Linked DNA regions of Homo sapiens. The protein of the gene in region 6 purifies or fractionates together with the protein of the main gene of each other region. This does not show direct contact. Each region holds a gene or a part of one and is shown on either strand. Other genes may lie near its edges.

Evidence for each region.
Region 1: the proteins of TULP3 (region 6) and PIP4K2C purify together in Homo sapiens (affinity purification with mass spectrometry; 3 studies listed by BioGRID and IntAct, with this or other methods). This does not show direct contact.
Region 2: the proteins of TULP3 (region 6) and IFT43 purify together in Homo sapiens (affinity purification with mass spectrometry; 6 studies listed by BioGRID and IntAct, with this or other methods). This does not show direct contact.
Region 3: the proteins of TULP3 (region 6) and IFT122 purify together in Homo sapiens (co-immunoprecipitation; 7 studies listed by BioGRID and IntAct, with this or other methods). This does not show direct contact.
Region 4: the proteins of TULP3 (region 6) and WDR19 purify together in Homo sapiens (affinity purification with mass spectrometry; 6 studies listed by BioGRID and IntAct, with this or other methods). This does not show direct contact.
Region 5: the proteins of TULP3 (region 6) and RAD18 purify together in Homo sapiens (affinity purification with mass spectrometry; 3 studies listed by BioGRID and IntAct, with this or other methods). This does not show direct contact.
Region 7: the proteins of TULP3 (region 6) and PML purify together in Homo sapiens (affinity purification with mass spectrometry; 3 studies listed by BioGRID and IntAct, with this or other methods). This does not show direct contact.

The regions. Positions count from the first base shown.
Region 1 is NC_000012.12:57,597,262-57,601,357, forward strand, and holds part of PIP4K2C (phosphatidylinositol 5-phosphate 4-kinase type-2 gamma), read left to right. Parts: intron 1-696; exon of another isoform or gene 697-798; coding exon of another isoform or gene 799-801; intron 802-1,803; coding exon 1,804-1,950; intron 1,951-2,138; coding exon 2,139-2,177; intron 2,178-2,490; coding exon of another isoform or gene 2,491-2,541; exon of another isoform or gene 2,542-2,556; intron 2,557-3,062; coding exon 3,063-3,176; intron 3,177-3,549; coding exon 3,550-3,817; intron 3,818-3,983; coding exon 3,984-4,087; intron 4,088-4,096. UniProt on the Homo sapiens protein: Phosphatidylinositol 5-phosphate 4-kinase with low enzymatic activity. May be a GTP sensor, has higher GTP-dependent kinase activity than ATP-dependent kinase activity. PIP4Ks negatively regulate insulin signaling through a catalytic-independent mechanism.
Region 2 is NC_000014.9:76,058,393-76,062,488, forward strand, and holds part of IFT43 (intraflagellar transport protein 43 homolog), read left to right. Parts: intron 1-249; coding exon 250-282; coding exon of another isoform or gene 283-376; exon of another isoform or gene 377-879; intron 880-934; coding exon 935-981; intron 982-4,096. UniProt on the Homo sapiens protein: As a component of IFT complex A (IFT-A), a complex required for retrograde ciliary transport and entry into cilia of G protein-coupled receptors (GPCRs), it is involved in ciliogenesis.
Region 3 is NC_000003.12:129,442,853-129,446,948, reverse strand, and holds part of IFT122 (intraflagellar transport protein 122 homolog), read right to left. Parts: intron 1-4,096. UniProt on the Homo sapiens protein: As a component of the IFT complex A (IFT-A), a complex required for retrograde ciliary transport and entry into cilia of G protein-coupled receptors (GPCRs), it is required in ciliogenesis and ciliary protein trafficking.
Region 4 is NC_000004.12:39,230,512-39,234,607, forward strand, and holds part of WDR19 (WD repeat-containing protein 19), read left to right. Parts: intron 1-1,285; coding exon 1,286-1,445; intron 1,446-1,650; coding exon 1,651-1,761; coding exon of another isoform or gene 1,762-1,794; exon of another isoform or gene 1,795-1,797; intron 1,798-4,096. UniProt on the Homo sapiens protein: As component of the IFT complex A (IFT-A), a complex required for retrograde ciliary transport and entry into cilia of G protein-coupled receptors (GPCRs), it is involved in cilia function and/or assembly.
Region 5 is NC_000003.12:8,953,181-8,957,276, reverse strand, and holds part of RAD18 (E3 ubiquitin-protein ligase RAD18), read left to right. Parts: intron 1-4,096. UniProt on the Homo sapiens protein: E3 ubiquitin-protein ligase involved in postreplication repair of UV-damaged DNA. Postreplication repair functions in gap-filling of a daughter strand on replication of damaged DNA.
Region 6 is NC_000012.12:2,897,016-2,901,111, forward strand, and holds part of TULP3 (tubby-related protein 3), read left to right. Parts: intron 1-4,096. UniProt on the Homo sapiens protein: Negative regulator of the Shh signaling transduction pathway: recruited to primary cilia via association with the IFT complex A (IFT-A) and is required for recruitment of G protein-coupled receptor GPR161 to cilia, a promoter of PKA-dependent basal repression machinery in Shh signaling.
Region 7 is NC_000015.10:74,018,355-74,022,450, forward strand, and holds part of PML (protein PML), read left to right. Parts: intron 1-4,096.

The DNA.
Region 1 (4,096 bases), about 55 Mb from region 6:
ATAGTCCAGGGTAGAAACAATGAAGGCCTGGGGGAGCGATGGTGGTGGGGATAGAAAGGAAGACCTATGGGAGAACTGAGAGTTAAGACACAGGGGCCTCCAAGTTCCTGGTTAGGGATAACTGGGTGCCTATTCACCAGAAATTAGAAACAGAGGAACAGGTTTTTGGAGGAAGAAAGTTCTGATTTGGACATACTGAATTTGAGGTTTCTGCAATTCATCCAGATGAGGATGTCCAGTAAGTGGTTGGGGTATGTGTACAGAATTCAGGAAAGAGGATTAGACTGGGAGTATAGGTTTGAGAATTATATGTGAGTAAGTGATCATTAAAACCATGGCTATAGATACGATTATTGTAGGGAGGTTGTGTGCAGTGAAATGAAAAGAAGGTTGAGGACAGAACCTAAAGGAACAAGTGAAGAAATGAGCCCATAAAGGAAACTAAGAGTAGATGGACACTTTTAATTATTTATGCCATGCTACATTCCATACGGGATTCGACGACAGAGAGGAGGGGAATCAGGAGGGTGGTATAATAAGAGCTGAGGATGAGGAGACTTTTAAGGAGAGACTGGTCAATAGGATCAAGTGCCACAAAGCTGAAATATGACAATGACTAGAATACTTACTAGATTTGACAACTGAGGGATATGGGGGAGATTTCAGAGGAGAAATGAGGTATAAACCTGATTTCAGTGATTCAACGTGTGAATGAGAGACAGGAAATGGATTTCTTGCTGATTACTTTCCTGAGAAGGTTGGCTGTGAAGAGAAAGAGGCAGCAACACAGAAAGAGAGATGGTAAGCACTGAAGGAGTAATTTTTGTTTTTTAGAGACAGGATCTCACTGTGTTCCCCGGGCTGGTCTCAAACTCCTGGGCTCAAGCGATCCTCCTGCCTCAACCTCCCAAGTAGCTGGGATTACAGGTGTGAGCCTGGCTTAACAGGAGAATTTTTAAAAAAGAATCCAAATTGTAGGCCGGGTGCAGTGGCTCACGCTTGTAATCCTAGCACTTTGGGAGGCCGAGGTGGGCAGATTGCCTGAGTTCAGGAGTTCGAGACCAGCCTGGGTAACACAGTGAAACCCCGCTTCTACTAAAATACAAAAAATTAGCTGAGCGTGGTGGTGTGCGCCTGTACTCCCAGCTACTCGGGAGGCTGAGGCAGGAGAATTGCTTGAACCTGGGAGGAGGCGGGGGTTACAGTGAGCCTAGATTGTGCCACTGCACTTCAGCCTGGGCAACAGAGTGAGACTCCATCTCCAAAAAAAAAAAAAAAAAAAATCCAAATTGTAGGCCATCATGCAGACTTTTTTTTTTTTTTAGGTATAAAAATCTGTATTTATATTACAGTGACAGAATGACACAGCACAGCCCAACCCAATGCAGACATTTTAAATTATGGGAATCTAGCCTATGAAGAAACACTGCTCTAGATAAAATGATTTCATTGATAAGATATAAGTTGTAATCCTGGTTCTGTGCCACTTGCATATAGAAAGGGTCTAAAATAAGGATAATAACACTTAACCTTCCTCATCTCAAAGAATGATAAAGGTGAATTGAGAGATGACACTTAAAAATTAAGAGATGTACAAATGGAAGGAATCAGAGGAAAGGGGGATTCAGAAACGGCATGGATAACCTGGAGTGTTTTGGGGAAGCTTCCACCACTTTTGACTTTGTAATCTCTCTACTTGAAGTCCTCTGCTCTACCCTGGAATGGCAGTGTTTGAACTTCCCTGGGCTGTTTGTGTATCTGCTACTCAGCCTCTCCCCATTCCTTCCCCCTCTTTCACTGTAGTACATTGTGAAGTGCCATGGCAACACGCTTCTGCCCCAGTTCCTGGGGATGTACCGAGTCAGTGTGGACAACGAAGACAGCTACATGCTTGTGATGCGCAATATGTTTAGCCACCGTCTTCCTGTGCACAGGAAGTATGACCTCAAGGTAAGAAGAGGGTAGCTCGGACTTAGAGGGAGGCTCCTGATAGCCTGAGAATGGGGAAGACCCTGGGAGGTCTTTGGATGATTCCTTTTAAGGGAAAGAAGGCTGGGTTTGAGTACTCATCTTAGGGGCTGGGTTCTGACTGTTCTTTTAGCCACTTCTACTGACTTGGTGTTTGGGTCTTTCTGCAGGGTTCCCTAGTGTCCCGGGAAGCCAGCGATAAGGAAAAGGTGATAGTAATTTTATGTGCTAGGGTGAGGGATGAGGGATGAGGGAGGGCAGATGAGGGGAACTTCTTAGGATGGAGAGGCCACTCTATATAGGAATAGGGATTACTAGCTATTTATTATCTTAAACCACTTAAAAGAAGGGGGTAAACTTCTGTTGATCCGGGGATTGTTTGGAAGGGGCAGTGGGAGCAGCTGCTTTAACACTGGCATGGGTTATTCCATATGGAAGGCTTGGGGATGGGTGAGGTTGCCAGACTTGAAGAGCAAAGTGTTTAACTTCCACTTCCCATTCTGGGTTATTTTATTCAAGCAGCTACTTTTGCTTAAGAAGACACAGGCCGGGCATGGTGGCTTATGCATGTAATCCCAGCACTTTAGAAGGCCAAGGCAGGACTGCTTGAGCCCAGGAGTTCCAGACCAGCCTGAGCAACGTAATCTCTACCAAAAACACAAAAATTAGCCGGGCGTGGTGGCACGCGCCTGTAGTCCCAGCTACTTGGGAGGCTGAGGTGGGAGAATCACTTGAGTCCAGGAGGTCGCGGCTACAGTGAGCTGAGATCACACCACTTACATTCCAGCCTGGGCAACAGAGTGATCGAGATCCTATCTCAAAAAAAAAAAAAAAAAAAAAGAGGAGAAAGAAAAGTCAGCCTGGAGGGTCTTGGCTAAAAACCATAAGCAGAGAGTAGTGGGATGTGATTTGGGATACAGCTGTAGTGACTGAGTCTGTGGAAGTCACTGGAGGTGAGAACAGACCAGGGAAGCATCACAGTGTGGAGTTAGATGAGATCTAACTGAGCTAGCATAGAGCCCTAGACAGAAGGTGGGGTTCTGAGACCTTGGGGAAGGGATATGTTCCCAAGATGTCCCTTTACATATTCTTAGGTTAAAGAATTGCCCACCCTTAAGGATATGGACTTTCTCAACAAGAACCAGAAAGTATATATTGGTGAAGAGGAGAAGAAAATATTTCTGGAGAAGCTGAAGAGAGATGTGGAGGTGATGATTGGGTGCTCTGGGAAATGGCTTTCCTTTTTTTGCTCCCTAGAGGGTAGTTGTCTCTTTCATTCACGGTATGAGGGAGCTCCTCCCCTTCCCTTTATTCTTCAGGTCCTCTGCCTATATGGGGGTTTAGTATGAGACATGAAAAACCCCTGGAGCTGACCCGTGGAAGGGGTGGCTGGAATAAGCTAAAAGGATGATCTTAGATACTAGGACATATAGGCACTAAAGGCAGTGGTATGCCCTGCAACCTCAATTTTTATACTTCCTTTCCCCAGAAGGGCCCCAGAAATTCAAAGGTACAGGTACAGGGGTGATACCTAGCAGTGAAGAGTGAGAGAGAGGTGTCTGATTTGTCAGTGGGTCTCAGTTTCTAGTGCAGCTGAAGATCATGGACTACAGCCTTCTGCTAGGCATCCACGACATCATTCGGGGCTCTGAACCAGAGGAGGAAGCGCCCGTGCGGGAGGATGAGTCAGAGGTGGATGGGGACTGCAGCCTGACTGGACCTCCTGCTCTGGTGGGCTCCTATGGCACCTCCCCAGAGGGTATCGGAGGCTACATCCATTCCCATCGGCCCCTGGGCCCAGGAGAGTTTGAGTCCTTCATTGATGTCTATGCCATCCGGAGTGCTGAAGGTGAGAGAACCGGGACAATTTAAGGGTGGAGAGGGGATTTTTCCTGGAGGACAGAGACCAGAGTGCTGGGGGAGAGCCTGATTAGCTTTTCAGAACAAAACTGACTGCTTCCTGGAGAAAGGGAATTGGAACTAAACCTACTCTGAATTGTTGGTCTCTCTCCCAGGAGCCCCCCAGAAGGAGGTCTACTTCATGGGCCTCATTGATATCCTTACACAGTATGATGCTAAGAAGAAAGCAGCTCATGCAGCCAAAACTGTCAAGCATGGGGTGAGAGTT
Region 2 (4,096 bases), on a different chromosome or scaffold from region 6:
CTCAACCTGCACTTACACTCTCAACAATCCAATTTGGAGTGAGGCTGACATAAAGCTGTAAGAAGGCACTACAGCATCTTCAGTTCTCTCATGCTGGTTGTGGGGCTTGTCTCTAAAGAGGACTGCAGACAAATAAAGCACTTGAGATATACTAATTTGCCTCCACTTTTGAAACCTTCCTCAAGATACTACCTGGTGCATGAGACTAGTGGGCTCTCAAAAACCTTGTCTTTTCTTTTTTTTTTTCAGGTTTAGGAGGAAGGCTTCTGAAGAAATAGAAGAGTACGTTTCCAGTATTCTTATTCTTATGGTATCCTATGTTGATCTTGGTCAACAGTGCAGTCTTGGTGGTCATGATCTGTTCCACCTATGTTGAACACTGTGTTAGAAGTCTGGGGCTAGAATTATTGATGCCTGCTGAATCCAAGGTTTGGTTAATCCCGCTTCCTCAACTGAAGGTCTGGACCCTGGCATTGATGCCCATGTCCTATCTCCCACTGTGTGGTTTTAGAATTATATGTCCAGGTATCAGGGTACTGGCCCATGCCTTCTGCATTATTGATATAGATGGGCAGAAGCAATACCAGCTTCTAAGCCTTGCCTTCTCATAAGACTTATATCAGAAAAGAAAGAAGTTTTCTAGATAAAGGTGCTGTGAAGGTAGGGCCACCCAGTTTCCTACTCCCAGGGGCGGAAGCTGCATTCATGTCATAGCCTCTGTGATGCTGTCCTCTGGAATAGTGCATCGCACAGCCTGTGCAACCACACACGGCACACCCAGTGGCCTAATTAGGTTTGACTAAGTTGACAGAGAAAAACAGGTTCAGGGACATTTTCATCTAGGAGAAAGAATGGATACAATAAACATTTGGGATGTTCCTTTCCGTGTTTGAAACTCATTTTTTGCTGTCCTTTTCTTCTTTTTTGGGGGCAGTTTCCGCCTCAGACCACAGAGCCTGAATGGATCAGATTATGGAGGAGGTAAGAGGCCCTTGGAGGAAGTCAAAAGGTCTTCTAGAGAGGCCCCAGAACATTTCCTGGGCTACAGCTAAGGCACTGTTGGCTGCAGCATCACTGAAGACATTTGCAGTGGTCTTCTGACGCATGCTGATGCACATCTTCATGCCTTGCTGAATGCTGCCACCTCTACCTGGAGTATCTCTCCCTTCTTTATCTGATAACCCTGCTTATCCTTCAAAAGGTCAGCCAAAGCATCACTTCCCCTGAAACATCTTCCCTTCCCATCCCACTCCCTCTCTCACTGGATGTTCTTTCTCCATGCTCCTCTAACCTCCTTGGCAAACCAACATTGTAATAACATGGCCAATATTTACTAGGTGTTGACTATATCCCAAGCACTGTCCTTCCAGTTTACACATGTTAAAGCATTTTCTCTCACCACAACCCCGTAGTACTACTATTATCCCCATTTTACAGTTGTGGAAACGAAGGCATGGAGAGGTTAAGTAAGTTGCCCAAGGTCACACAGTTGCTAAGTGAGTAGAGCCAGGATTTGAGTACAGTTAGGATGTACTGTGCTTTAACTCTTTGTTGGCTTGATTGTTTTCCCACCAGACCTCTAAGCTTCTTGATGGCAGACAACACATGTTCTTTATCTTTGCATCTCCAGTGTGTGACGCATAGTAGTTAGTTAATGGCTAGCTATATAAACGCAGGGAAAACAGTACTAACAAGGCAAGTAGCTGTGGCACAGTGGAAGCCTATGTTCAAATATCAGGAGAAAAGATGAAGTTTGTGTGTGTCTCTAAAATGAAGCCTTCTAGGGAGGAGATTACGTAGGGGATCCAAATTATTATTGTTATTATTATTATTATTATTTTTTGAGGCAGAGTCTCGCTGTGTCACCCAGACTGGAGTGCAGTGGTGCAATCTTGGCTCACTGAAACCTCTGCCTCCCAGGTTCAAGTGATTCTCCTGCCTCAGCCTCCCGAGTAGCTGGGGTTGCAGGTGCATGCCACCACACCCAGCTAATTTTTTGTATTTTTAGTAGAGATGGGGTTTCACCATGTTGGCCAGGCTGGTCTCTAACACCTGACCTCAAGTGATCCTCCCACCTTGGCTTCCCAAAGTGCTGAGATTACAGCCGTGAGCCACCGCGCCCGGCCCCAAATTGTCAAAGCCTTTTTTTTTTAGACACACTTATTTATAATTTTCACACTCCTTGTTTGTTTGTGTAGATCCTAGTTTCTATCTGGCATCAGTTTCCTTCAGCCTGAAAAACTTTATCATTATTTTGTAGAACAGGTTGTCTGGCAAGAAATTCTGTCTGCTTTATTTGTCTGAAAATGTCATCTTCAACTTTTTACCAGACACAGAATTCTAGGCTGACAATTTTTTTCTTTTAGCATTTTAAATAGTTATTTTATTGTCTTTGGCCTTCTTTCTTTCTTCCCTCCCTTCCTCCCTCCCTCCCTTTCTTCCTTCCTTCCTTCCTTCCTTCCTTCCTTCTTTTCTTTCCTTTTCCTGCTCTCCCCTCCCCTCTCTTTTCTTTTCTTTCTTTTTTTTGAGACAGGGTCTCACTCCATCGTCCAGGCTGGAGTGCAGTGCCATGATCTTGGGCCCACTGCAACCTCCACCTCCTGGGTTTAAGTAATTCTCCTGCCTCAGCCTCCTGACTAGCTGGGACTACAGTCACATGCCACCACACCTGGCTAATTTGTGTATTTTTAGTAGAGACAGAGTTTTACCATGTTGGCCAGTTTGGTCTCAAACTCCTGACCTCAAGTGATCCACCCGCTGTAATAGGTGTGAGCCACCTCGCCTGGCCTACATTGTTTCTGATGAGAAGACGATCATTATTCTTATCTTTGTTCCCCTGTATGTAATGTATCTTTCCCCCTATCTGCTTTTAAGATTTCTTCTCCATTATCAGTTATTTTCAGCAATTTGTTCCTAATATGCCTTGGTGTGGTTTTCTTTGTGTTTATCCTACTTGAACTTCTTCAGTCTGTGGATTTATAGTTTTCATCAGATTCAGAAAATCTTAGCCAATATTTCTTTAAATATATTTTTCTTCCCTCCCACTCCTTCTAATTCCAAGTTTGTATGCCCACACAATTGTCTCCACAGGTCATTGAGGCTTGGTGTTTTTTGTTTTTAGTCTACTTTTTTTCTCAGTGCTTCAACTTGGATCGTTTGTATTGCTGTGTAACTGGTCTTTTCTTCTACAATGTCTAGTCTGCTTTTAAGCCCATCTAGTGGATTATTATTTCACATATTTTTTTCAGTTCTAGAAGCTCCATTTGGTTTCCTTTTGTATATCTTCCATTAATCTTCTCATTCTGTGTATGTTTTCTTTCATCCTTGATAGTAGCCTTTATATAGACTGAGTATCCCTTATCCAAAATGCTTAGGACCAGAAGTGTTTCGGAGTTCAGATTTTTTTCAGATTATGGCATATTTGCATTATGCTTATCTAGTTGAGCATCCCAAATCCCAAAATCCAAAATCTGAAATCCTCCAATATACATTTCCTTTGAGCATTATGTCAGTGCTCAAAAAGTTTTGGATTTTAGAGCATTTTGGATTCTCAGATTAGGGATGCTCAGCCTGTACTAGCTCTTTTCATGTTCTTTTGCTGCTAATTCCATTATATCTGTCTTTTCTGAGTCTGTTTCTATAACTGATTTTTCTTCTGGTTACAAGTCATATTTTTCCGCTTCTTTTTTTTTTTTTTAAACAGAGTCTCACTCTGTTTCCTAGGCTGGAGTGCAGTGGCTGTATCTCGGCTCACTGCAAGCTCCGCCTCCTGGGTTCATGCCATTCTCCTGCCTCAGCCTCCCAAGTAGCTGGGACTACAGGTGCCTGCCACCACGCCCAGCTAATTTTTTGTATTTTTAATAGAGACAGGGTTTCACCATGTTAGCCAGGATGGTCTCGATCTCCTGACTTCGTGATCCGCCTGCCTCAGCCTCCCAAAGTGCTGGGATTACAGGTGTGAGCCACCGCGCCCGGCCTGTTTTTCTGCTTCTTTACATGATTAGTAGGTTTTGATTGGATGCTGGACATTGTGAATATCATTATGTTGAGTCTGGATCTTGTCTTCCTTTAAAGACTGATATACAGACACTCTTCA
Region 3 (4,096 bases), on a different chromosome or scaffold from region 6:
AAACCTGTCAAAACAGACTATTGTTAAGGTTACTACTGAAGTTACTCAAAACAAAACACACAAAAAACAAACAACAACAACAAAAAAACAAAACCCAACCCATAGTAAAAGTTTAGCATGGGATAAACTTGCCAGTGTCAACAAAAAATCAAACTCTGTAAAATATCTGAAGAGATTTATTCTGAGCCAAATATGAGTGACCACAGCCCATGACACAGCCCTCAGGTGGTCCTGAGAACATGTGCCCAAGGTGGTCAGGGTGCAGCTCGGTTTGACACATTTTAGTGAAACATGAGACTTCAATCAAATACATTTAAGAAATGCATTGGTTTGGTCCAGAAAGATGGAACAACTTGAAGCAGGGGGCTTCTAGCTTATAGGTTGATTTAAAATTTTTCTGACAATTGGTTGAGCTTATCTAAGGACCTAGGGTCGGCCGGGCGCGGTGGCTCATGCCTGTAATCCCAGCACTTTGGGAGGCCGAGGTGGGTGGATCATGAGGTCAGGAGACTGAGACCATCCTGGCTAACACGGTGAAACCCCGTCTCTACAAAAAATTAGCCAAGCATGATGGCGGGCACCTATAGTCCCAGCTACACGGGAGGATGAGGCAGGAGAATGGCGTGAACCCGGAAGGTGGAGCTTGCAGTGAGCTGAGATCGCGCCACTACACTCCAGCCTGGGCGACAGAGTGAGACTCTGTCTCAGAAAAAAAAAAAACAAAAAACCTAGGTTCAACAGAAAGGAATGCCTGGGTTAAGATAAAGGATTGTGGCAACCCAAGTTACTGTTTGCAGAGGAAGCCTTGAGGTACTAGGCTTTAGAGAGGAGAGTTTGTAAAATGTTTCTTATCATACTTAAAGTCTGTGTTGATGTTAATGCCAGAGAGGTATACTGAGGCATGTTTGACCCCCATTTCCCATCATGGCCTGAAACAGTCTCTCAGGTTAAATTTTAAAAGAGCCCTGGTTGAGAAGGAAATCCATTCAGATGGTTGGGGGGCCTCTGAATTTTATTTTTGGTTTATACCAGTAATCTAAAAATCAAGCTTTTGTCAGTAACTTGGAAGTACACTCTCAATGACAGTACTTCGAACTCTTATTCCAGACAGCACCTGCTGAGCTCTTAAAATGCATTATTTTATTTCATCTCCACAATAATTCTGTGAGGTAGGAATTATTACTCTGTTTTGTAGATGAGGATACCATGGCTCAGAGAGGTCAAGTAGTTTGCCTGATGTCACACAACTAGCAAGTGCAAGGGCCAGGATTTCAACTCAGGTCTGACTCTAGAGTCTGTGCTTGTAATTAACGCGCTATGCTGCCTTCTGCTCCCTTGAATTACTGCCAAGTATGTCAAATCTGTTATCCTTCATACTTTAATAACAGTGACTAACATTTATTGAACACATTTATTATTGTGTATGCCAGGTACAGCTTAAATGCTTTACATGTATTAACTCATGTTAACCTCAAAACAACTGTATACCTGTTTCACAGATGAGAAAACTATGGTACAGAGAAGTTAAATAACTTGCCTGAAAATAAAGTGCTACTGAATGGAAATGGAGCCAGGATTCAAACCAAGGCAATCTGTTTTTTTGTTTTTGTTTTTGTTTTTTTTGAGGTGGAGTCTTGCTCTGTCACCCAGGCTGGAGTGCAGTAGCAGGATCTTGGCTCACAGCAACCTCTGCCTCCCAGTTTCAATCGATTCTCCTGCCTTAGCCTCCTGAGTAGCTGGGATGACAGGTGCCTGCCACCACACCCAGGTCATTTTTGTATTTTTGGTAAAGACAGGGTTTTACCATGTTGGCCAGGCTGGTCTCGAACTCCTGACCTCAAGTGATCCATCTGCCTCAGCCTCCCAAAGTGCTGGGATTTTAAGTGTGAGCCACTGCATCCGGCCTCAAACCCAGGCAATCTGGCCTGAAGCCCATGTTTTAACCATTATGCTATGTGGCTGCCATTATCATTGTTGGCATATGTCAAAAAAAGGTATTATTACCTACTTAAGGCATTACATGAAGAATTCAGAAAGCTTTTAATATGGCTCTGTTGACCTGACGCTTCCTTTAATAAAAACTCTTCACAGTTATTCAATATTTAAGAATTGTTAAAGAGTGTAAACTTGGCCAGACATGGTGGCTCACGCCTATAATCTTAGCATTTTGGGAGGCCGAGGCAGGCAGATCACGAGGTCAAGAGATGGAGACCATCCTGGCCAACATGGTGAAACTGTATCTCTACTAAAAATACAGAAATTAGCTGGGCGTGGTGGTGCACACCTGTAGTCCCACCTACTCGGGAGGCTGAGGCAGGAGAATGGCTTGAACCTGGGAGGCGGAGCTTGCAGTGAGCCGAGATTGCGCCACTGCACTCCAGCCTGGCAACAGAGCGAGACTCTGTCTCAAAAAAAAAAAAGAGTGTAAACTTACATTATCTTATTTGATCCTTACGAAAACATAATGTAGTAGACAGGACAGGCACCACTGCCCCGATTTTACCAATGAGGAAACTAAAGTACAGAGAGGCAAGTTGTTTGCTCCTAGTCACAGAGCTGGCTGATAAAGAAGCTGGAACAAGGATGATTATCACACTCTTTCCAGCTGGGCAAACTGAAGCCCTGAGTTTTTCAGCTTCCTCACCATTATGTGGTAACAGACCTGGGCCTTCCTTGTTTCTTACGCTTTCTTCCTCTGAGCCTTGGCACATTTCACATTTTGAGAAGCAGCATGGCGGAATAAAAAGTAGGGGGGACGTGGGGCCAGAAAAGCTGATCTCCTATCTGAGCTTTCATTCTCACCTACAAAACAAGGATAGAGAGGTAGCCTCCTACTCACGGGGTGCACAAGCCAGTCTATCCAAAGCGCCTGACACTTGTGGATTGCTATGGTGGATTATTAGATGTTGGAGCAGTGTCTGCACCTCTCATCTAAAGTCATCCTTGGTATGTGGCTTCCTTTCTGCCTTGTACACATATGAGCTCATCAAAGTGATTCCTGTGTGACCTCTTCTTCATAAGGGTCATTTTGGGTTGAATTATCACAAAATCATTTCTGAATGTCTCATTTGAGCCAAGCCTGAACATTCTTCCTCTTAGATATAAAAATTCATTTTCTCTGAATATCTTGAAATTTGCCTTCCTAAAATATATCATATATGTCTGATTTGCCCCAATCTAAACTCTTAATGTACTTAGAATCTGTACATTTCAGTTTAGCTCTGACTTATACAGTCTTCTTTACATTGTGTTAGATATTATCTTGCCTTGCCCCTTTAATTATAGTCATACACAATTTGAAAGCAATGGCCATGTTCTACATATTTGTGGACCCACAGTGCATGGCACTGTCCTAGACATGTAATAAATATAATTATGAAATCACCAGAAACTCAGAATTGGAAAGGACTCTAGACCTTGTCATGCAGTCCATCTGGCCCATCAGGGCAAGAATTCCTTATAGATGGCCATCTAGCCCCTGCTTGAACACTCCAGGGCTGGGAGCTCACTCATTTGCAGGCAGTCTATTCTACTGTAGGATGGTTCTCTCTCCACCTGCCTCTTTTTATAAAAGAGATACACTGTCAGAAGACACACTGTCAGATTCCATTGCAGAGATACAGAGGAATCCTGCAAATTGTCCTCTGACAACCCTGCACCCACCTCACTGTAAACCAATGTCCCACAGTGCCTCTCCAATTCCTGCATCATCTGACCCAGCCCCACTTACTCATTTTGTAATCTTAGGTAACTTATGTCACCTCATTAAATCTCAATTTCTTCATCTTTAAATGAGATGAAAATTCCAACCTCACATGTTGTAGAGATTAAACATGATAACACCTATAAAGACATGTGGACATGTGGCCTATAGCAAGTACTCAGTAAATACTAGCTGGCATGAATGGAGAGTTACAGCAGATGCTAGCCTGATTGGAATACAGTGGGCTAGCCTAATAAGACATCCTGGTTGAGATGAACCTGGAGCTGTGCATTTAAAGGAGAAAACTAGGGAGTTCATAGAATAAGGGAGCATTTGGGAAGGATCTTCGGGTAGAAAAATAGAGTTTTCAGCTCAACCTAAAAGTATAAATTT
Region 4 (4,096 bases), on a different chromosome or scaffold from region 6:
AATCTATAAAGGAGACATAATAATAATACTTAGTGGGTAGGGTTATTAGGGTAAGAGAATTTATGCAAAAGACTTAGCACAAAGAGTTACCTATTGTAAGTACTCAGTTACCTCTGTCAAACTATGCTATAGTCATTTGTTTCCTTATCTGTCTCTTCCACCTTCCCCAATTGTGACTGCCTTAAGGACAGCAACTGTGGTTGATTTTTGTATCATGTTTCCAAGCATGTAACGAGTTCAGTAAATGTGTGTTGGATGAAAAAATGGATAGGTGAATAGATAAATGGATGAATGAATAGATAGATGGATGTAATATATTCACTCATGTAGAGGTTCCACAAAAAGTTTAATTGGCATTTATGTTCATGTTTTAAACCAGAGGTCGGAAAACCTTTTGTGTTAAGGTCCAAATGGCAAATATTTCAAGCTTTACGGGCCATAGGGTCTCTATCGCAGCTACTCAGTCTGGCTGTTGTAGCAGGAAAGTGGCCACAGACAATCCATTAAAGAGTGGGCTGGGCCGGGGACGGTGGCTCACACCTGTAATCCCAGCACTCTGGGAGGCCGAGGCGGGCGGATCATGAGGTCAGCAGATCAAGACCATCCTGGCTAACACGATGAAACCCTGTCTCTACTAAAAATACAAAAAATTAGCCGGGTGTCATGGCATGCGCCTGTAGTCCCAGCTATTCGGGAGGCTGAAGCAGGAGAATAACTTGAACCCAGGAGGCCGAGGTTGCAGTTAGGTGAGATCACGCCATTGCACTCCACCCACCCTGGGCAACAGAGTGAGACTCCGTCTTCAAAAAAAAAAAAAAAAAAAAAAGAGTGGGCTGATCAGTGACTTTGTTCCACTCAAGCTGTATTTTCAAAACAGCACCTGACTAGATTTGGCCCATAAGCCATAGTTTGCTGACCCCTGTTTTAAACTTCTAAATTTATAGGAATAGAATACTAATTTTATTAGACTTATATGAGAACAAAAATAATATTCATCTATGTGTGAAATAAAAAGAAATAAATGAATAGGATTAGCTTAGTTAATTGAGTAGGCTTATTACAGAGTAGATTCAGATTAATAAAAGAAATTTAGGGAAAAACATTTATCTGTAAAAAAAGGAAGAAAGCTTAAGTGTTTTTTCATTACTTGTAAATGACAATTACAGGTTAAGAAATGTTTTAGACAGTTTATCTGGGGCACGCTATTAGATGACATGTAGTCTGAAAATTGCCTAACATGTGGCAAGTGGAACATTCTGATTAAGCTTATGTTCTTACATCCCAGGTTTTCTGATGCTTGGGAAATGTGCAGGATTCTGAATGATGAGGCTGCCTGGAATGAGTTGGCCAGAGCTTGTCTACATCACATGGAAGTGGAGTTTGCAATCCGTGTTTATCGGAGAATTGGAAATGTTGGCATAGTGATGTCCTTGGAACAAATAAAGGTAAACAGCATGTTATAGAATTATCAAGTTAAAATTTAAATGCTATTTTAAGTTAAATGCAGTCTAAATTTTTTGCATTTAATCTTACCTCTTAAACAAGTGAATCGATAGAACGTTACCACTTCCTACTGATCAAAGTCCTTAAAAAAAAAAAAAAGTTAAACTCTTGCATTTTTTTTCTCATCAGAATTGCTTTTATTTGTAGGGAATAGAGGACTACAATCTTTTGGCAGGACACCTTGCCATGTTTACCAACGATTATAACCTGGCTCAGGACTTGTACCTTGCATCCAGCTGTCCTATTGCTGCCCTGGAGGTATGGCAGCAAGTAAGAATGGAAATTGTGTAAGAGGTATCCAGTGGGGAAATGGGGGAAAAAAAAATGGGGCCGGGTGCAGCCGCTCACGCCTCTAATTCCAGCACTTTGGGAGGCCAAGGTGGATGGATCGCCTGAGGTCAGAAGTCCTAGACCAGCCTGACCAATATGATGAAACCTCATCTCAGCTAAAAATACAAAAATTAGCCGGACGTGGTGGCATGTGCCTGTAATCCCAGCTACTCAGGAGGCTGAGACAGGAGAACTGCTTGAACCTGGGAGGTGGAGGTTGCAGTGAGCCTGTAATCCCAGCTACTGTAATCTCCTGCCCCAGCAGGAGAATTGCTTGAACCTAGGAGGCAGAGATTGCAGTGAGCCAAGATTGTACCACTGCACTCCAGCCTGGGTGACAGAGCGAGACTCCGTCTCAAAAAAAAAAAAAAGGAAAGAACATAAGAATATCAAAGGAGGATCACCCCTTCTATATAATTAAAATTTCTCAGCACAGACACTATATGCCTTCCCCCTCCTAAAATTCAAACATGTCAGTTTAAGAACCCCTGAGTACTCATTAATTATAATGTTAATCATTAAAATTATAATTCAAAAATGTTTATTCTGCATTTTGTGGAGGTATAAAATGCATGGTATTATAACATTACTAATTGAAATCTAAATGTGTCCAAAGAGAACAGATTGTGTAAATTACAAAAACATATACAAGGAAAAATATCACCATATATTGAGTGCTCATGTGGGCCAGGCATTTTTCTAAGCACTTATCATGTATTAATTCATTTAACCCTCCCAACAATCCTATGAGATAGGATTGGTTTTTTCTCTATTTTCCAGATGGGAAAACCGAGGCACATTTATCCTTATTGTGTGAAATTCTGTTGTGTATTAAAAGGTGAGCTAAGGACTAGTGTACCATCACTGGTTTCCCAGAGGTGAGCATTGCAGGAGAGGGCCTAGAGCAGGATGAAGGGCCTGGTTAGTTCAAGGGCAGGGAAGAAGGGAAACCTGGCAATATAGACTAGCAATGAGGGGCATAGACTTCACAGTCAGACATGTCTGGGTTCAAATTCCAGCTCTGTGTAAGCTTGGACATGTTATTTAACCTTTCTGAACCCTAGATCCTATTTCTTTAAAGTAGGAAGAATAATATCTAACCCACGGGATATTTGTAAGGATTTAAAAATGAGAATGAGGTCTTTTAGCACAGTGCCTGATCAATAGTAAAGACACATAATTAGCTATTGTAATCATTAATATTATTTCACCTAAAACTGGCATTTCTACAACTATGTAAAAGAGCTTGTTTTGGGAGCGTTTGTTATTAATTTTACAACTTTCCTTTTACAAATCATTCTATAGCAAATTTTCATTTTTAAATTTTAAGTGAACTAAATTAACTTTGTTATAAGAAAAATTTAGGTAATTTTACAGTATTATTTAAGATAATTGGGACACCCTGAGAAGTTTTCAAAACTTGGATTAGTACTCACTGAAATAGGAATATGGCTGCGATGACTGAGGGGAAATATATCATCTCAACTCTTTTGCATTTAACTGTGGGCACTTGTCATGTGCTGCTAGACTTGGAAAGGATTTGAGGTAATGGATTGATAATGGAGAGGGGTGATTACTCTTTAACCTCACTTTGAAAGCTGATGAGTTAACCAGGTGAAGAGTTCAGAGGCAGAGCCCTACTGCCCAGCTCTGTCATGTACCAGCTGTGTAACCTTATATACAGAGGAGCCTCTGTTTGCCTCAGTTTCTGGATCTCTAAAATGGATACAAGAAAGTATTAATAAATTGCAAAAGGGTAGTTGTGAAAGATAAATAAGCTAATCCCCTAGAACAGTATCTGGCAGATAATAACACTTGAAAAATGTTAGCTATTATTGTTTAGGAAGTATGAATAAAGTGAGGAATGAACTTTAAAAGATTAATGATGAGTTTATATTTAGAATTATGTACCAGGCAGAGAAAAAAGACCACAGGAACATATATTTACATTTTAGTTACATTTGCTATTACTCTTGTGATAGAGCTTCAGATTTTCTAAGAAAAACACACCAATTCCTATAGCAAAGTGTTCTCAACTTTTTAGAATCACTACCTTCTAAAAATAAAAATTAACTTTAATTTAATTGATTACATTAATTTAATTTGATTACTCCTTGCTGAGAAAAATTAAATACTAAGGACTAAGATTTTGTTAGATACGACTGAGTTTTGGAGGGCCACAAACCATTATAATAGCTAAGATTTTTTTGCCCCTCCAAGAATCAATTTTTGCCTCCTTCAGGGCTCTATCAAGACCCTATTG
Region 5 (4,096 bases), on a different chromosome or scaffold from region 6:
AATTGTATTGAATCTAGAGATCAATTTGGGAGAATTGACATCTTAACAATGCCGAGTCTTCAGTGTATGAATATGATACACTTCTCTATCTTTATTTCTCTCAACAGTGTTGTTTGATTTTCATTGCACAGACCTTGCACAAAGAAATATAACTTATATTGACCTTTCGTCTTCTGACTGCAGTAAATTCACTTTAATTCCAGCATCTTTTTTGTTGATTCCTTAGAAATTTTTGCATACACAATCATGTCATTTGTGGATAAAGACAGTTTTACTCATTCCTTTCTGATCTATATGCCTTTATGTTTCTTTTTGTTACACAGGCTGGTACCTCAACTACAGTGTTGAAAGTGGTGTGGAGGGACATCCTGTCCTTACTCTTAATTTTTTGGGGAAAGCATTCAGTCTTTTACCATTAAGTATGATGTTAGCTGTAAGTTTTTTTTATATTCTTAATATGTTTTCATAAACCTACCAAGTTGAGGCACTTCTCTACCCCTGGTTAGGCGAGAGGATTTTTTTTTTTAAATCATGAATGGGTGTTGAATTTTGTCAAGTATTTTCTGCAGTTATGGAGATGCTCATATGATTTTCTTCCTTTATTTTGTGACATAGCTAATAACGTTGTTTTTGTTTTGTTTTGTTTGGGAGACAGGGCCTCACTCCCTCACAGTGGCTTTGTTACAGACTGGCTTTGTACTGTAGTCCCCCCTTATCTGTGATTTCAGTTACCTGTGGTCAACTGCATTCTGAAAATACTAAATGGGAAATTCTGGAAATAAATAATTCATAAGTTTTAAATTGCACTCTGTTCTAAGTAAAGCACTGATGAAATCTTGTGCCGTCCTGCCCAGGATGGGAATCATCCCTTTGTCAAGTGTGTTGATGTTACATATGCTATCTACCGTTAATCGTTTAGTGACCATCCTGGTTACCAGATTGACTGTTGCAGCATGGCAGTAATTGTCACTGTGTTGCAGAACACAGTAATTGTGTCAAGTAGCGCTTATTTTACTTAATAGTAGCCCCAAAGCACAAGAGTAATGATGCTGGCAATTCGGATATGACAAAGAGAAACCATAAAATGCTTCCTTTAAGTGAAAAGGTGAAAGTTCTTAACAAGGAAAGGAAAGAAAATTGTATGCTGAGGTTGCTAAGATCTACAGTACCATCTACAGTACAGCACAAGATATTTTGAGAGAAAGACCACATTTACATAACTTTTGTTATAGTATATTGTTTTAATTCTATGTTATTGTTATTGTTCCTAATCTCTTACTGTGTCTTATTAATAAATTAAACTTTATCATAGGTAAGTATGTATAGGAAAAAACATAGTATAAATAGGATTCAGTACTACCTGTGGTTTTAGGCATCCACTGCGCTTTATGGAATGTCTCGCCTGTGTATAAGGGGGCACTACCATATAGAGAAAGATCTTTACTAGTCAGCTTGACTGCAGATTCTAGGGGCTTCGTAAGCCTTTTCTGTGGATGTGTCTTCCCTGGACTTGTGATTATAAATTTCCAAGCCGAGAGATTTGGTCAGTTTTTTCATTAGCTGCTGTTTTTCTCTCTCATGTGTCTGTCCATGGTATTGCAGGTTCTCCAGAGTTGCTGTAAGCCATCAGCCTCTTTTTTTGTTTTCAGCTGCCCTCAAGCATCTAAAGTATGCTGATCCAAAGCACCCCAAGTTGAGTGAGACAGAAACCATTCCCTTAGGCAGTCCTTTGAAAAGTTCAAATGTTGGTCACACACTCCACTATTCTCTCCCAGCCTCCCCTCCCAAGATAAGCCGCAGAGCTATATCAGCCTCTGTCTGCTCTATGGGTCCTGTGGATCAGTAGCAAGCAACCCAGCTTTTTTTTATTCTTAGCAGTCCCCAGTCACCTAGAACATGCAGGGTTCATGCTTAGTGGGGTGAGACAGAAGCCAGTCCTCTGGCCAGCTCTTGGAAAAGCTAGAACATTGGACCGTGTTTCCCTTCTTTCTCTCCCCAGGCAGAAAGTTGGGGGTTTCTCTTCCTTGCTGAGCCTGGGGGAGGCACACTGGCCAGTGAGTGTGGTACTAGTCCAGACCTTTGCTTTTGTTCTCAGTGGCCCTCAACCTGGTTCCCTTTTCTGTCAGTGTATAGATTCAGGCAGCTCAGAAACCAGTTTCTCAAGTAGCCCCCGCAATGTAAGTGCTAGTCTTCTGTTTCTCTCCCTAGGGATACATGTTGTTTGCTCACTTCTTCATGACTTATAGCTGTCACTTATGCCATTCTTTAAGAGGAAGTCAGTGGAGGGAAGTTTCAGTAATGATGATTTTTTATTTTATGAGCACTTTTTTTTCACTTGTGAAGTCTCAGTATTCAGTAGGCCTCTTCTACTAAACACCAGTTGTCACAAGTCCCGTCATGTCTAAAATTTGCTCTGGGTCTTTAGTGTTTTAATGACACAAAACCCCCAGGGCTGTAGTGGAAGCCAGGTCTGTCATGTTCTGGTATCATCTTGGATTGACTAGAATTGGTGATCCAGAATCCTAGGTATTTATTGTTGCTTCTTAGATTTTTCATGATTTATCATTTTTAAATCACTTTATTTTGTTTTGTTCTGTTTAGGTTTTTGGATATGAGTAATAAACACTACATTTGTAGTTCTGCAGGTACAAAGGTGTGAGTGGGGTGCCTTGGCAGAATGCAGGTCAATTAAATTGATCCAAATTTGTGCTATTAAAGAGTATTTTGGGGGCGAGAGGGAGCAGACTTACTCCAACCCATAAAACACCATTAAGTGAGAAATGGTCTTGCTAATAGACTAATATGCCCAAGTGCCAATTTTCTTTGCACTTGCTATAATTTTTCTCACTTCATAATGGAAGATGATCAAAATATTTAGCAATTGGCTGGCTTTCAAACATCAAAAGAGTCTAGCATCTTAATAGTAAAAAGGAAATTTCTAAAACTTAAATGAATCCTTGTCATGTGAAATCTTAAGGACTTTATGAAAGAAGGAACTTTTTAGAAAGAAACATCTAAAGTGTCCAGTTAAAAGCAAAAACCAGTGTGAAAAGAACAGGAGGTCCAAGAAAGCTGAAAAGGTTGGCATCTGCCTCCAGTTCTAATGTTAAGGGACAGTTAGTTGGTAAGAGAATAACATCCCTCCAACTAAAGACTAGCATTTCAGAATTTCCAGAAGTGCAGCTCTGCATAATTATATCTCCCTTTTGTGTGTGTAGCTATTTCTCTTCTCCTCTGCCTTGTTTCACAGTGCTACTTCATGAGAATATAAAAGAAGATAAACACGTTTATTATTTGCCTAATAGAATCTTATGTTGTCTCTTGAATTAGCAAAGGTTTCGTAAGGGGAACATTTCATATTTCAGTTTGTTTTAAAAAATGAAATAAAATTGCTTTTTACTTCTACACAAGCTTTGATTAATTTTTTTTGAGTCAAAATCCACAAAAGGAAAAAAAAAAAAGATTGCTGGCCAAGCTTTAAAATAGTGGTAATTTATCAGTGTCCACAAGCCAATTATTTTATCTAGGATCTTGCTTGGGATTAGAGATGCCCCCTCTCCCAAGGCTTGGATATTTCTGTGAAACTACTCTTTAATTCATTGTTGTTATTGTACCTTCCTCCACTCTGCCCACACATCTTTTTTGGGCTCTCTTGGATGGAAAGACAAATTTCATAGGTGATTTAAATGAAGCCCTCTGGGAATACATGAATTCAAAACTCTTCAGCTGTTCTTCTTTGAATGGAAGGGTTGTCATAGTTGCCCACTAGAGAATAAATTATGCTGGTCTGCAGCTTACCAGTACATATTTGGTAGTAGTCTAGTAGAGTGAAATTAAGCCTAGGGCTTGATCTACTTAGGACTCCATATCTGGTTCTCCTCATTTCAAAAGAAAAGAAGAGGAAAGATATACAAGATTATGCAGAAGAGAAAGCAGTAGCCTTATTATAAATACTAATTTAAAAGGTACATGTGACCTTATTAATTAAATGTTATTTATTGATGTATACATAATATATATAATGTATACTTATATAGGTACAATTACATATATAATAATGTATACACTATATTGTATAAGTATACATTATATAACT
Region 6 (4,096 bases):
TTTAAATTTTTTTTTTGGAGTCTCGCTCTGTCGCCTAGGCTGGAGTGCAGTGGCAGGATCTCGGCTCATGGCAACCTCCACCTCCTGGGTTCAAGCAGTTCTCCCTGCCTCAGCCTCCTGAGTAGGTAGGATTACAGGTGCCTGCCACCACCCCTGGCTAATTTTTGTATTTTTAGTAGGGACAGGATTTCACCATGTTGGCCAGGCTGGTCTCGAACCCCTTACCTCAGGTGATGCACCTGCCTCGGCCTCCTAAAGTACTGGGATTACAGGCATGAGCCACTACGCCCAGCCTAAAGATTTTTTTAATACAGGGGAAATTATTAGAAATTTCTGGGTTTCCAACATTCGAAAGCTTTTGAAAGGTGATAAAGTATTATGATGAAATCATTAGTCTTCTCACTGAAGTGAAGATTAAGGTAACACATTCATTTGTAGTATTAAGAAGTATTGTAAAACAAAAATCTTCCCAGGCACAGTGGTTCAGGCCTATAATCCTAGCACTTAGGGAGGCTGAGGCAGGAGGAAGGAGATCACTTGAGGCCAGTAGCTCAAGACCAGCCTGGGCAACATAGTGAGACCCCCTGTCTGTCTGTTGGTCTGTCATGTTCGTTTGTTCTCTCTCTCAAGACATAGGGTCTTGCTGTATTGCCCAGGCTAGTCTTGAACTCGGGCCTCAAGTGATTCTCCCACCTCGGCCTCCCAAAATGCTGGAAAGGCATGAGCCACTCTGCCTGGCCCGAGACCCTGTCTCTTAAAAAAAAAAAAAAAAAAAATTCTAGGCCCAGTGCGGTGGCTCATGCCTGTAATCCCAGCACTTTGGGAGGGCAAGGCAGGCAGATCACCTGAGGTTAGGAGTTAGAGACCAGCCTGGGCAGCATGGTGAAACCCTGTCTCTACTAAAAATACAAAATTAGCCAGGTGTGGTGGCGCATGCCTGTGATCCCAGCTACTTGGGAGGCTGAGGCATGAGAATCACTTGAACATGGGAGGCAGAGGTTATAGTGAGCCAAGATCGCGCCATTGCACTCCAGCCTGGGCAACAAGAGCGGAAACTAGATCTCAAAAAAAAAAAAAAAAAAAGATATAATAGCAGTTGCAGTTTGAGTGCTTACTATGAGCCAAGTTTCATTTAATCTTCACAATAACCTTCTGAGTTAAGTGTCATTGTCCTCACTTTGTAAATTAGGAAACTTGAGGCTTTACTAGGTTAAGTTGTACTGGGAACTGTGCTGTAACCACATAGCACACGTCTCTAAATGGGGACTTACAATTAGTTTGAACTAATATAGGCCAAGCCAGGGGTCAGCAGACCTTTTTAATTATTTTTTTTCAGATGGGGTCTTGCTTTGTTGCCCAAGCTGGTCTTGAACTGCTGGACTTAAGCCATCTTCCCGCCTCAGCCTCCCTAGCAGCGGGGACTATAGGCATGCACCATCACCCCTGGCCAGTAGTCCTTTTCTGCGAAGGTCTTAACCAAACGTTTTTGGTTTTGTGGGCCATACAGTCTCTGTCCCAGTTGCTCATTACTCAGTTTTGCTGTTGTAGCACAAAAGCAGCCATAGATAATAGGTAAGTGAATGAATGTGTCTATTTCAATAAGACTTTATGGACACTGGAATTTGAAGACTTTTTTCTTTTTATTCATTACTTCCTGCACAGTGATAATTTCTTTTGGGCTGGGGGGACAGGTTCTCACTATGTGCCCAGGCTGAGTGCAGTGGTGCAGTCGTAGCCCACAACAGCCTTGAACTCCTGGGTTCAAGCAGTCCTCCTTCCTCTGCCTCCTGAGTAGCTGGGATTACAGGTGTGCACCACCACACCTGGCTAATTTTTAAATTTTTTGTAGAGACGGGTCTCACTATGTTGCCCAGGCTGGTCTCAAACTCCTGGCCTCAAGCAGTCTGCCCACATAGGCATCGCAAAGTGCTGGGATGACAGGCATGAGTCACTGCACCTGGTTGGAATTTGAATTTAATATAATTTTTACATGTCTCAAAATATTATTCTTCAGATATTTTTAACCTTTTAAAAATGTGAAATTCATAGGCTGGGCACAGTGGCTCACGCCTGTAATCCCAGCACTTTGAGAGGCTCATGCGGGTGGGTCACCTGAGGTCAGGAGTTAGAGACCAGCCTGACCAACATGGAGAAACCATGTATCTACTAAAAATACAAAATTAGCCGGGCATGGTGGCCCATGCCTGTAATCCCAGCTACTCGGGAGGCTGAGGCAGGAGAATCGCTTGAACCCAGGAGGCTGAGGTTGTGGTGAGCTGAGATCACGCCATTGCAATCCAGCCTGGGCAACAAGAGCGAAACGACGTCTCAAAAAAAAAAAAAAAAAAACAGCGAAATTCATTCTTAGCTCAAAGGCAGTACAAAAACTGACGGCAGGCCAGATTTGGCCCACACGCTATAGTTTGCAGCCCCTGTGCTAAATCATAAAAGTATTTTTTCCTGGAAGGTCATAGTTATTCATACTGTGAATATTATTTAAGAGAGCATTGAAGATTGTTTTTATATTAAAATGGAACCCGTTACCTTATGGAATAAAACCCAGAATTTAATTTTCAAGATAAAACTTGGAGGCGGGGGCCGGGCGTGGTGGCTCACGCCTGTAATCCCAGCACTTTGGGAGGCCAAGGTGGGCGGATCACGAGGTCAGAAGTTCGAGACCATCCTGGCTAACACAGTGAAACCCTGTCTCTACTAAAAATACAAAAAATTAGCCGGGTGTGGTGGCAGGTGCCTGTAGTCTTAGTTACTCGGGAGGCTGAGGCAGGAGAATGGCATGAACCCAGGAGGCGGAGCTTGCAGTGAGCAGAGCTCATGCCACTGCACTCCAGCCTGGGCGACAGAGCGAGACTCCGTCTCAAAAAAAAAACAAACAAAAAAAAAAACAAAAAAAACTTGGAGACGGCTGTGGTGGCTCACATCTGTAATCCCAGCACTTTGGGAGGTTGAGGCAGGCGCGTCACCTGAGATCACGAGTTCGAGACTAGCCTGGCCAATGTGTTGGAACCCCGTCTCTACTAAAAATACAAAAAAAATAAAAAATTAACCAGGCGTGGTCGCACTCCTGTGTTCCCAGCTACAGGGGAGGCTGAGGCAGGAGAATAGCTTGAACCTGGGAGGAAGAGGTTGTAGTGAGCCGAGATCGCGCCACTGTACTCCAGCCTAGCGACAGAGCAAGACTCTGTCTCAGAAACAAAAACAAAAAAACTTGGATTCTAAAGATACGTTGTTCTGTAGATGGTCTCTGGACCGTACTTTCCTCCTTTCTCCTCAATTTCATTTAGAGCATAAAAGCACTTTCTTAGGCTGTTTGAAGCACTTGGATTGGAAATGTTGCCTGCAGTAACCTGTATAAACATCAATATATCAATAACAGATTATTAGTGCAAAATTTAAATGTCCAAAAACTGAAAGGGAATAATGATCGGTGACTGGGTCTATGAAATTACAAAAGTAAAGCCTAAGGGAGATGGCAAGCTTTCCTATTCTGCTACCCTTGTCAGCTGATGTCTTGGTAGAATTAATAAAGTACTCTTTTTAAACTCAAAAACATCTGTTTTGAATAATACTTTTTTTTTTAACACCCTACCTTTGAGGTAACTATTGTTAATAGTTTGTGTATATCCTTCTGGAATTCTTCTATTCCTGTAGACCTTGCAGATACTTTTTTTTTTTCTACTTGCAGTTATTTTTATTTTTTGTTTTTTGAGAGTGTCTTGCTCTCTCACCCTGGCTGGAGTGTGGCGGTGTGACGATAGCTCAACCTCCTGGGCTCAAGCAATCCTCCCACCTCAGCCTCCCAAGTAGCTGGAACTATAGGCATGCGCAACCAAGCCGAAATACTTTTTTTTTTTTTTTTTTTGTAGAGACGGTTTCACCATGTTGCCCAGGCTGGTCTTGAGCTCCTGGGCTCACGCGATCCTCTTGCCTCTTAAAGTGCTGGGATTACAGGCGTGAGCTACTGTGCCTGGCCATGTTGTGGTTTCAGTACACACTTACCTAATGACTAATCATATTGGATATCTTTTCATGTGCTTATTACCCATTCGGAAAAGTTCTTTTGTGAATATTTTGGGCC
Region 7 (4,096 bases), on a different chromosome or scaffold from region 6:
AAAGAAATTTAGAATACTTTGGTTAAGTTTCAAAAATAATTTAAATTGCCTTAAACCTGTTTATTAACTCAAGGAGAATTAATAATCTTATAATATTTAGTCTTATCTCTTAGTAGGTTTTTGTCATTTTCTAGGTATTTTGTACCTTCTTTTTTTTAATTTAAAAAAAGTTTTTTAGAGATGGAGTTCTTGCTGAGTTGCCCAGGCTGGCCTGGAACTCCTGGGTGTAGGCAATCCTCTCACCACAGCCTCCCTAGTAGCTGGGACTATAGGCACACAATCATGGCTTTGTAGAATTTTTTAAATAGCTGCTGTGAATGGGAAGATGGATTTTTTTCCCATATTTCTTCTCATTTGCTTTGCTAAGATAGAATTATGCTATTTTTCTTTCTTAATTATTATGTAATCTAGCCACTTTGGTGAGCAATTTCTTATTAAGTTAGTGGTGTTTTTGCTTATTGTTTTGAGTATTCCAGAAGCAAATAGATGTTATTTCGCCTTTCTGAAGATACGGTTAAGTCTGGGTTCTTGTCACGGAGCCCTTCTGGGCAGTTTCCCACTTCACCTCTGCCTCCTCCAAAGTGCCAAGCACGCAGCAGGTACTCAGTGAGTGTCCTCTGAATGAAGGTAAAGGAACCGCTTGGCTAAGGTCATTCCTGGCCCTGGGTGGCAGCCCTTTGATTCAGGATCTGCACCTCAGTCTTACCAGAGGGCTGGGGGCTTTTAGACCCAGGTGTCTGATTCAGGCTAGCCACCTCACAGACACTTGCCGCCCATTTCCATCTAGAGGGAAAGCAGGGGCCAGTCACCCTAGGGAGACCCCATTCAGGACAAAAGAAGCTTAGAAAAAGGACCCAGCGGAGGCTATGGCCATCCAGAACGTCTTGCTCTCTATCCAGCCAGGCTGCCTGAGGCGTGCCCTTCCAGGCTTGGAACCCTGTCTCCAAGGAAGGGGATCCAACATCAGACACAGCCCCTCTCCCCAAGTGTCCAAGATCCAAAGGGGGAAAATAACAACTGTTTCTTATTCTCTTCCCTTTATTCCTATACCCTATAGAATTGCCCACATTTATTAGTATTCTGTTTTTTAATTTCAAAAAAAGGAATACATTCATACATTCACAAGGCTCAAACATAATCTAAAAAGGTATGCAGTGAATGTCTTACTCTACCCTCATTCCACCCATCCCATAGCCACTTTTATTAATTTGCATGTCCTTTTAATATTTATTTATTCAAATACAATCAACTATGAAGATATTCTTATTTTTCCCCATTCTTACACAAAAGGTAGCATCTGATACACACATTTCTGCACCTTGATTTCTAACTTAAAATATATATCATAATAATACAAATAGTTAGCATTTATTGAACACTCATTGTATGCCAGTCATTTTTCAAACTTTTATCCATATATTAACTCATTTAATCCTTCCAGTACTCCTATTATTAACCTCATTTCTCCATGGAGAATTTTCCTTATCAGTATATAAAGAGCTTCCTCAATGGCTTACAGCTACATAGTATTCCGTTGTATGGGTGGATCATAATTTATGTAACTAATTGCCTTGTGAGGGACACGTGGGTGGCTTCTAATTCTTTGCTATTGTGGACTGTGCTGCAGTGAATATATTGTATGGATATCATCTTGTTATGTGTAGAGATAGAGCTGCAGAGCAGATCCAAAGAAAGAGGATTGCTGGGTTAAATGCATTTGTAATTCTGATGGGTATTGCCAAATTGCCTTCTGTAGAGTTATTAGTTCTTTTCATAATTGCTTAGTATTTCTAATTAAACGTAGCATTGATGAGCACTATGTATCAGTCTGGCTGGCTAGTAGGCTCTCTGTTGGTGGTTCCAGAACAAGTTGATCTCAGTGTAGTCCCAGATGAGACCCTTTCTTCTGGCCTCAGGTGGGCTGACTTATTCCTTTTTTTTTTTTTTTTTTTTGAGATGGAGTCTTGCTCTGTTGGCCAGGCTGGAGTACAGTGGTGCAATTTTGGCTTACTGTAACCTCCACCTCCTGGGTTCAAGCAGTTCTCCCACCTCAGCCTCCCAAGTAGCTGGGATTACAGGCGCACACCACCAAGACTTATTCTTATCACTGCCGGTGAGAGTAAATTACAGCAATATTTCTGGGGAACTAACAGTATTTTCCCTGGTAATATTTGAAGAAGCAGCCTTGTAATGGTTAAGAACATGGACTCTAAGCTGGACTGCCTGGGTTTTTATATTTTCTTTCGCTGCTGTAACAAACTACCACAAATTTAGGGGCTTAAAACAATGTAAATGTATTCTGTTATGGTTCTGGAGGTAAGAAGTCTGAAACAGGTCTCACTGAGGTATATAAAGGTGTCAGCAGGCTTTGCTCCTTTGGGAGGCTCTCAGGGAGAACGTTTTCTTGCCTTTCCCAGCTTCTAGAGGCTGCCCACATTCCTTGGTGCATGGCCCCTTTCTGTCTTCAAAGCCGGCAACATCACAACATTCCCACCTCTGCATTCATCACATCACATCTCCTCTCATTCTCCTGCCTCCCTGCCCTTTCCTTTGAAAGGATTCACGTGATTACGTTGAACCCACCCAGATAATCTAGAATAATCTCTTTATCTCAAAGTCCTTAATTGAATAACACCTGCAAAGACCCTTTTGCCATAGTAAGGTGACATATTCACAGGTCTCAGGAATTTGCACGTGGACATCTTTAGAGGCCACTATTCTGCTACTACAGTTTGCATCTAGACTCTACCACTTACTAATCGTGTGATCTTGAACAAATTATTTTGCCTCTTGCACCAGTTTTCTCATCCTTAAAATGGGGATAATAATGGTATCTATTCCACTGGATTGTCAGGAGGATTGAATGAGTAAATATTTGCCAATGCTTATAATAGTATCTGAGACACAATAAATGCTATGGAAGTATCTGCTAGCTAAAATATATTAACCAGGCCAGGCACGGTGGCTCACACCTGTAATCCCAGCACTTTGGGAGGCTGGGGCGGGTGGATCACCTGAGGTCGGGAGTTCAAGACCAGCCTGACCAACATGGAGAAACCTCGTCTCTACTAAAAATACAAAATTAGCCGGGGTGGTGGCGCATGCTTGTAATCCCAGCTACTCGGGAGGCTGAGGCAGGAGAATTGCTTGAACCCGGGAGGCAGAGGTTGCGGTAAGCTGAGATGGTGCCATTGCACTCCAGCCTGGGCAACAAGAGCGAAACTCCATCTCAAAAAAAAAATAACCAAATAAAAATATTAAAATACAAACACTTTGATCTAGCAGGCCTATATTTATAATCTATTTCATAGGAACAAAAGCTTCCATGATTAGGCTATATAACTTGGATATTACTAAAGTGTTGTCCATATTGGCACCAAAAGAAAAAAAAAAGGAAAGGAAAACGAAAGAAAGAAAATGCACAAACAGGAAATTACCTGAATGCCAGCAAAACGACAGTGATTGAATCAATTGTGGCCCATCTGGGATATACCAGAGCTATTAAAGAGAATACATCTGATCTGTGCCTATGCACCTAGAGGAATGCTCTGAGTGAAAGTTCGTTGAGAGGAGGAAGTTCAAAGTAATTATATGACTTGATTTATTTCTTTCTTTTTTTTGAGACGGAGTTTTGCTCTTGTTGCCCAGGCTGGAGTGCAATGGCACCATCTGGGCTCACCGCAGCCTCCGCCTCCCGGGTTCAAGCAATTCTCCTGCCTCAGCCTCCTGAGTAGCTGGGATTACAGGCATGCGGCAACACACCCGGCTAATTTTGTATTTTTAGTAGAGACGGGGTTTCTCCATGTTGGTCAGGCAGGTCTTGAACTCCCGACCTCAGGTGATCCTCCCGCCCCGGCCTCCCAAAGTGCTGGGATTACAGGCGTGAGCCACCGCGCCCGGCCGATTTCTTTCTTTCTTTTTTTTTGAACAAACATCAGCCCCCAAAATTATTGTAGATATCTAGGTCAATCATTTAACATGTTCTGTTTCTTCCTCTGGGAAATATGTATAACGACAATTCTCACTCAAGGGGCTCTTGCAAAGGTTAAGTGGCATGGCTGACATGTGTCAAGTCTGTACCATCCTGCAAGCAGCA